2 separate regions of the Homo sapiens genome follow, and region 2 is linked to region 1. Evidence: fine-mapped expression QTL. A gene starts in region 1. The other region holds a variant in brackets. All regions are shown on one strand. Distances are from middle to middle.

Region 1 (4,379 bases):
GGCATTTACGAAGCCTGTGGCTCACAAACCACACAAGAACCTAATGAGATGTCAGTGGGTGCCCCGATACATCCGATACGTCAGCGTCTCCCGAAAGCTCCAAAGCACACATTCTCTCCTAGTTCCCAAGTGCTGCACAGCCTTCCTTCAAAAACACCAACTCAGCTGCCAGGCAGCTTCACGCCCGGGGCACAGCCCTCAGACCTGCAGTTCCATCTCAAGGCTGGCACCCGGGGTTCCACATAACCCAGCCATCAGGTCCCGTCCAGCTCACAGTTTCTCTTCAGCATGGACACTGTCTCCAATGCCTGACACAGGCTGCCTCCCCCAACAAAAAAGAGGCTCCTGGAGGTGGGGACCCTGTCAGCCATTGCACTCCCCAGCGCCCAGCACAGGCCTCACCAGGCCTCTGGCAGGTGAGTACGGGGTCGCCATGGACACCACACACGGGCACACTCCCAGAAGTTGAGTTGCGCTGTCCCAGCTCCTGGAGGACACAGGATCCCTGGCCTACCCCTGCCACAGCGGGAGACAGGCACTCTAGCCAGCCCCACGTGCACAGCCAGCGTCTCCGGAGCTGCTGGGAACACACTCGGAGTCTGCTGCTGACTGGCCCCGACAGCCGGCTCTAGGGCCTGGTGGTGGCTCCAACACTCCAGCCACCCATCGGCCAGGCCAGGGCACCAGCTCTGCAGCCCCACCCTGGGACCAGGCAGCCCAGTGCCCTCTGGCAGAGAAGGCAAGAGAGAGGTGGCCACCAAGGAGGGACAGAAACAGGGCTCTTCCAACAGGCATTCTAGGAGATGGTCCTGTACAACTGATTCCCACCACTTCCAGCTGGCGGAAAACAGCCCCCTCCCACAAGTGAGGGCTCAGAGGCAGAGAGAGCCAGGACTCCCCCCTCCCTACTGGGGACTAGGCTTGGAGAGGAGGTGCAGTGGAGGTAGAGGCAGGGCAGGCCAGTCCCCCGGGGGCTGGAACTGCAGCCCCCTCCCGCTATGTCATTTCCACTTCCAGGCAGGTGGGGGTGCCAGGAACCCTCTCCCCATCAGCGCTGCCCTCCAAGCTTAGGGCTTCCCATTCTCAGGGCACCTCCTCTACCCACCGCTCCCGGCACAACTGGCCTTTGCCAATCACAACCCCTCCCCCATTTCATTTTTTCCCACATCAACAGTCTCTGACAGCCCCTCTCTGCAACACAGGCAGCGGAGGAAGAAGGGGAGAAGGGCCGGAGGGATGGAGGGATGGAGGGATGGAGGGATGAAGGGATGGAGGGGGATCGGAGCGGCAGGTTCGGCCAAAAGAGACCAAGGGCCATTACACGTCCAGGTAGCACCTGTCCCCTTCCAGCAGGCCCAGCACATCTGGACCCAGCTGGTCCCCGCGGCCACCTGGTCCATCCGCCACCAGCTCTGAACGCGAACCCCTGTCTCCGCGGGGCGCCGCACGTGGGGGCCTCCGGTAGCCATGTGAGTGCCCCCCCAGCCCAGGTGCCCGGGTCAGCCCAGCCCCTCCCAGGGACGCAAACAGGGAGGGGGCGCTATGCAGCGCGGGAGGGGGGTGCTGCCCCCGCCCCCTCCCCAGATGCCAGGTCAGGGAAAGAGCTCGGGAAGGGGGGAGCCGGCGGCTCCCGGGTCTACCGAGACGGGATCCGAGGCAGCTGGGTTGAATGGAGGAATGCCCGGGCCGGCATAGCCCTGCTCTCCCAAGCGCCAAGGTTGGCCGGGCACGGGAGGGGTCCGCCTGACCCCCAGGCCGCCCTGCGGATTAGGGGGCGGGCCTGAGGAGGGGGCTTCCAGGCTTTGGCAGCCGCTTGATATGGGGTACGGGGGAGTCCGCGGGAAAAAGAGCCGGAATGGGGATCCGGTCCCGGACAGGGGTTCCGGGCCCCGGTGCCGCCGCCCCCGATTTGAGGGTCCGGGGAGACATGGATGGGGCGATCCCAACCGGAGAAGGCGCTTCCCAGCCGCACAGCCGGCCCCTCGGACCCGGGATCGGAAGACAGAACTGGCAGGGGAGGGGGCTTTTCTGCGCCAGCGCCGTCCCCCGGTTCAGGGAGGTCTGTCGGGGAGGAGACCAGATCGGGGGGTCTAGCCGAGGGACGGAGCGCGCCGGCCCGGGAAGGGGGTAGGAGCCGCCGCGCGCCACCCCCGCGCCCTCACCTGCGCCGGGCGCCTCGGCCGCCTCCGGCCCGCTCTGCCGTTCCGCTGCGCCGCCGCCGCCTCTCGGGTCCGCTCGCAGGTCCGCGCGCCTAGGCCCCGGCCCCCGCCCCGGCTCCGGCCCGCGGGCGCCCCATGCCTCTCCTCCGGCCGGCGCGGCGCCCCAGATGCGGCTGCGGGAGGAGGAGCCGTGCGGCCCCGGCTCCCCGAGAGCGGCGGGGAGGGGGCGGGGAGAGGGGAGAGGAGCGCGGGGGAGGGGGCCGTGCGGCTGCGCCCAAAACCAGGCGCGGATCGGGCCGCGGGCGCGGGGCTGGGGGGGCCTTGGGGGGGCCCGCGCCGTTCCTGGCGCCCCACCCCCACCCACGCCCCCGCAACCCGGGGGAAGGGGGAGGGTCTCCGCAGCGGGCGACCGCTCTGTCGCGATCCGGAAGAGCGCTTGGAAATCCGGGGCCGCCAGTCCAGAGAGGGCAGGCTACTGGAACAAGGTCACACAGCGCGGGCCGCGGTGGCACGGGAGCCTGGAACCCCAGGCTACGGGGCGGGCCGGCAGGAACCTGTGTTGACCATCGCCGCCCCGTGGAGGAGGGAAACTGAGGCCCAGAGAGAACGAGACTGGCCCGGGTCACACCGCGCCAGTCAGGAACCACCCCACCCCCGAGAACTTGGGGCTCCTGCCTCTAGGAATGGGTGCCCCCTCCCGGTGACCTGCTTCCGCAGAACCCTCTCCCAGGTGTCTTCTAGCCTCTGGCTGAACGGGGGTTAAATGCAGTCTCTGGAGTGGGATGAACCTGAACTGCGTACCAGCCCTGCCTCTCCTGGCTCTGTGGTTACAGACAAAAGACTGTCCCTCTCTGAGCCCCATTCCTCCACCTGTAAAATGGGGACACCACGAGTCTCTATCCCCAACTTGGGTGAGAAACCAAAGAGATCATGGGTATGAGCTCTTTACCGGTGCCTGGCATTCAGTAGGTGTCAAATGAATGTGCCTGCCTTCTCTGGCTCCCACACACAGCCATCTCCAGAGAATGCCTCTGAATGCAGAAGGGTCAGAATGGCGTGAAAGGGTGGCCTGCAAGGCTCCTCACAGCCCTGTTCCAGTCTCCTCCACCACCCACCCACCCTGCTCACATCCCCAACCCAGTGATGACTGTTTCAGTGCCCAGCCTCTGCCTTTCCCTGTGCCTGCCATGCCCTCCCACCTCTCTACCTGACAAACTCCTACTCATCCATCAAGGCCCAGAGCAATCTGTTTCGTACCCCAGCTTCTCACACTCCCTACTAGTCTACCCATATTTCCTTTCTCCAGAACACATTCCCCTTTCCCCAGTGTCTGGTCTGGGTTTGTCTCTATCTTCTCTGGCTCTAACAACTGGGGTGAGAGGAGGTCACTCAGAGGAGATGACACCCTGAGGCCCAGCGCTGCCCAAGAGGGCTTCCTGGAAGAGGCAGGGCTTCAGTAAAGCCTGGATGGAAAGGTGAGTTTAACACCTGCATGCAGCAGGCAAAGAGGTGGCATGTTTGGGCAGGGTGTCAGCAAGGAGGAGAGTGGGCTCCCTGGAGCAGTGGGAAGATCTTGGCGAATGAGCTGGGAGCCAGCGAGAGCCAGGGGCTGGACAGCGACCTGGCGGTATATATATGATCAGGTTGAAGATGAGCAGGCTTTGCCCTCGAGAACACCTCACATGGGGGCCCGGGAGGCTTGCACAAGGATGCTCATAGCAGCATCGTTTGTAATAGTGAAAAGCTGGACACAGCCTAAATGTCCATCATTTGGAAACTGGATAAATAGCAACACATTCAGACAATGGAAAACTGTCTGTGATCCACAATCCTCAAAATAGGTGATTGCAAGCTTATGCATTGTGAGGCTGAATCTCAAAAACACACTGTTGATTCAGTTTGTGAAAATCCAGGGTTGTACACTTACAATTTGTGTGCTCTTTGTATGAATGCTATACTTCAATACAATTTTTAAAATAAAAATATATATTGTTGGATGGAAAAAGCAAGTTGCAGATGGAAAACATAATTTCATGCCAGATACATAAAGTTTGAAAACACACAACACAATACCATATATTGTTTAGCGACACATACATATGTAATACAAGTGTAAAAGCATGCATGGGAGTGATAGACAGCAAATTCAAGAGAGTAGTGACCGTGAGGGAGAGAGGGAAGGGAATGTTGTAGTAAGGGCTTTAAATATACTTGAAGTGG
Region 2 (4,379 bases), 150 kb before region 1:
GAACCTCACCTCTTACCATGGCTCTCTCCTCAGTGCTCTGCCCCCCACCAGCCTGTCAGGCACCTCCTGCCTCAGGGCCTTTGTACCACTCACCCCCCGCCTGGAGCGCTTCCCAGCACTGCTTATTCCCACACTTCCTTCAAGTCTTCACTCAATCCGGGTGTGGTGGCTCATGCCTGTAATCCCAGCACTTTGGGAGGTGGGGTGGATAGCTTGAGGTCAGGAGTTCGAGACCAGCCTGGCCAACATGGTGAAATCCCCTTTACTAAAAATACAAAAATTAGCTGGGTGTGCCTGTAATCTCAGCACTTTGGGAGGCCAAGGTGTGCGGATCATGAGGTCAGGAGATCAGGACCATCCTGGCTACCACGGTGAAACCCCATCTCTACTAAAAATACAGAAAATTGGCCGGGCGTGGTGGCTCATGCCTGTAATCCCAGCATTTTGGGAGGCCAAGGCAGGCGGATTACCTGAGGTCAGGAGTTCAAGACCAGCCTGGCCAACATAGTGAAACCCCGTCTCTACTAAAAATACAAAAATTAGCCAGGTGTGGTGGCAGGTGCCTATAATCCCAGCTACTCAGGAGGCTGAAGCAGGAGAATCGCTTGAACCAGAACCAGGGAGGCGGACATTGCAGCCATTGCACTCCAGCCTGGGGGACAAGAGTGAGACTTTGTCTCAAAAAAAAAAAAAAAAAAAAATTAGCCGGGCGTGGTGGCGAGCGCCTGTAGTCCCAGCTACTCAGGAGGCTGAGGCAGGAGAATGACATGAACCCGGGAAGCGGAGGTTGCAGTGAGCCAAGATCTCGCTACTGCACGCCAGCCTGGGTAACAGAGTGAGACTCCGTCTTAAAAAAAAAAAAGTCTTCACTCAAAATCTCCCTCTCAATGAGCTGTACCCTAGCCACCCTGTTTATACCTCGGCACCCCTCCCTGCACTCTGCCACCACTCCCAGGACCCCTTATGCTGTGCCAACTACCAACAAACCACACACTTATTTATGTTTATTGTTTTGTCTGCCCTTCCCCTTCCCAGTAGAATACAATCTCCATGAAGGCAAGGATTTCCATTTTGCTCACTGATGGTACCTACAACACAGCCTGGCCCAGAGCACTTGATCAATAAACATCTATCAGTGAAAGATGCCTGATTGCAAGGCTCAGGTGCTTAACCACCATGCCGTAGGGCCTCCAAGGTTCTATTTAAACACCTTCATCTCTCTTCCTTTGGGGTGACTTCTCTACCCCCTGAGGGGATACAGAATGCCCCTGTCTTGTCTCAAGAGTCTCAATCCTGGGATTGGAGGCCTGCCCACCAGTCCTTCAGTCCTGGTCACTATTTCCCCCAGAAGGCTGAGTGGATCTGCTAAAAACAGGACATGGAAGAGTGAGGATCCATATACTCAGCACACAGTAGGCACTCAATTAATCAGGCATGTCGTAGTCCAAGGGTTGGTGGACCCCAGACAGGAAGCCTGCCTTCTGCCCAGTGTCCTCTGTGGAGAGGTGCCTGTTTCAGCAGTAGGGAATTGTGGTTCCTCATTATTCATTCTGGGAAGGCCTCCTGGGTCCTCCCATTATTCTCTGACCCTATGGCCCCTGTCCTGACCTCACTGTCACTTACCTAGACCACTGCACCAACCTGTGAGTGGCCTCTCAGCCTCTAATCCATCCTGCCCATGTTGCTAGAGGACTTCCCCTGCAACTCCTGTAACATACCTTCATTACCCATGCTTGTACTGCTTTACCAGGACTGGGTGGCTCCCACGCACAGGGGGCAATGGAGAACCCAGGG[C/T]TTCGAAGTCAGGCACACCCAGGTAGGAAACTGCTCCCTGACCTACTAGCTGGCTGACTTTGACCTTGATAGATAATCATCTTCCCTAGGCTGATGTTTCTTTGTGAAATATCTGTAAATGTGTGTGCATGTCTGTGTGTGCGCACGTGCATGTTGGGATAAGTGGGTTAGATCAGGAATTGCAGATGTATGTAACTCTTCTGGCTACGGTAGACATCGCGAATCGATGGTGGCACCTTTCTTTGCTTAACCAAATCTCAGAACTGAGCTCCAGGGATCAGAGATGACACATGGTTGAAGTCCATTTGCAATCTCCGGACATGATGGTCTTTGAGTTTCCTCTTAGCCCTGACACTGTGGAGACTAGAGGCGTTGGGCTGACAAGAGCCTGCGGTGGAGTGAGGGGACAGGTGGGCCCAGGGTAGGGTTGGGGGACAGGGTTGACTGGAGGGTTGACTGTGTACTGCAATTTTATCAACCTCCCTTCCTGTATACAGAGTGTGTGGTGCCGGGGGGAGGTTAGGGGTAGGAGGGCAGTCAGAGAAGAAGCTGGGGGATGGAAGATGGGACAAAGAGGGGCAGGCATAGCAGCTGATGACTGGATTGTCACAGATGGGAGGTACCTGTGGGTCCCCAAACCAAGGCCTCACAACACAGATAGAGACTTTGAGGCCCAGGGAAGGGCAGGTGCCCACTCAGAGTGACACAGAACTCAGGGTCCCTGAGCAAGGAGCAAGGGTGGTTCCCAGGCCTGGAGCCCATCCCAGGTCAGCCTAGAGCCACAAGCACTGTCAGGGAGTGAGCCCAAGTGTGTGTGCCTGTGTGCTTGCACACACTCAGGTGCAGAGAATGCAGCTGGCAGGAGTGGGGGTACACCCTGCAGCCCACCACCTTGCCTGCCCAGGCCACTGGCTGTCATCACAGCCTCCCTGTGATTCAGAGGGAGTGGGAGAGACACAGAAAGGGAGGACGGGGAGGAGGGCCAGAAACTGAGAGGGAAGGAAGGCAGAGAGGGTGGGAGGGAGAAGCAGAGAACTGAGGGAGACAGACAGAAGGCAAAGATGGTGGGGGGAGAAAGAGGGAGAGGAAGGGAGGGGAAGCTGGAAGAAAGAGAGGGAGATGGCAGAGTAAGAGGAGGGAGGGAGGAGGAGGGAGGCTGTTCTCCTTTCTTCTTTTTCTCAGAGGCATAGAGAGAAGAGAGGCAGGAGGGGGCAGACTGGGGAGTGATGGCACCCCCAAGCCCCCTCCTAGATAGGTCCTTTGGCTGGGGAGGGGCACGCATCCATAGCGGCTGCTTCTCCCACCATCCCAGCTAGAGCTGACCCCGCCTGCCAGTCACCTGCCAGAGCTATTTCTGGAATGTGGAATCTGGGTCAGACAGGGGGAGGGAGAACAGGGACAGCAGTAGTGGCACTGGCAGTGGAGAATTGGCCAGGTCCACGTGGGTGGGCGGGCAGGCAGGCAGCTCCTCACCCTGCCCACGCCCTGCTTGAGAGGGGCTCTCACTGCCTCAATAACTGCCGCTCCCCTACATCAACCCACCGGCCTGCACAGGACCTGAGTGCACAGATGCCTCTGTGAGAAGGACAGAGCTTTCATGCCCTTCAGCAACGTGGGGGCTCAGAACAGCCCTGGGGGTGGAGAAAGGACCCGATTGCTCACTCCTTGGAGACAGATGCTGAGGAGTAAGGGGGCAGCCTTCTGAGCAGGGGTGACCCAGTAGGGAGACAGTGGCTGGATGTACAGTGGTGAGGATGTGCCTGTGTGTGCTGGTGTTTGTCTGTGGAGGGAGTGATTTTGGGCAGGCTCGCCATATATGGTTGTACAAGTTTTATACTGATCAAGGATGCTACATATCGGGGGGAGCCATTCACCACATAGACATAATTTAATTATATAATTATTATGACAAATTTCTGGCAAATGGAAGTAAAGGACCTTATTCTAACAAAAAGTGTGACATGACAATTTTTCAACAGATGGCTGTTAAGTGTCTTAAGGAGTGCCCTTTCTTTCTATCTTTTTTTTTTTTTTGAGACAGAGTCTCGCTCTGTCGCCCAGGCTGGAGTGTAATAGTGCGATCTTGGCTCACTGCAACCTCTGCCTCCCAGGTTCAAGTGACTCTCCTGCCTCAGCCTCCCGAGTAGCTAGGATTACAGGCGCCCAGCTAATTTTTGTATTTTTAGTAGAGACGGGGTTTTGCCATGTTGGCCATTCTGGTCTCAAACTCCTGACCTCAGGTGATCCACCCACCTCGGCCTCCCAAAATGCTGGGATTACAGGCGTGAGCCACTGTGCCCGGACTCTTTTTTCTTTTTCTTTTCTTTCTTTCTTTCTTTTTTTTTTTTTTTTTTTTTTGGAGACAGAGTCTCACTCTTTTCGCCCAGTCTGGAGTGCAATGGCACGATCCCGGCTCACTGCAACCTCCGCCTCCTGGGTTCAAGCGATTCTTCTGCCTCAGCCTCCAGAGTAGCTGGGATTATAGGTGCCCGCTACCATGCCCAGCTAATTTTTGTATTTTTAGCAGAGACAGGGTTTCACCATGTTGGCCAGGCTGGTCTCGAACTCCTGACCTCAGGTGATCC

Which allele goes with the higher level. Alleles are on the strand shown, and positions count from the first base shown. SD is a standard deviation of normalised expression in the study named.
For the expression in tibial artery of the gene that starts at base 2,336 in region 1, T is the high allele of the variant in region 2 and C is the other (small effect, 0.38 SD a copy in GTEx).

Evidence for each region. PIP is the estimated chance that this variant, and not a neighbour inherited with it, causes the effect. A credible set is the group of variants that fine-mapping cannot tell apart.
Region 2: its variant is the best candidate, but not a certain one, in a credible set for the expression of DLGAP4 in tibial artery (GTEx, PIP 0.52).

What each region holds. Positions count from the first base shown.
Region 1 is chr20:36,304,296-36,308,674 of GRCh38, reverse strand. It overlaps DLGAP4 (DLG associated protein 4), which reads right to left and starts at 2,336. Exons shown (of 13, transcript NM_001365621.2): 1 at 2,163-2,336.
Region 2 is chr20:36,453,708-36,458,086 of GRCh38, reverse strand. All of the region lies in intron 7 of DLGAP4 (DLG associated protein 4), which reads right to left. Among named protein-coding and RNA genes, the nearest start is that of MYL9, 86 kb to the left of the region's middle. RefSeq lists an enhancer at 2,951-3,751. The variant C/T (reference allele first, on the strand shown) is at 1,795.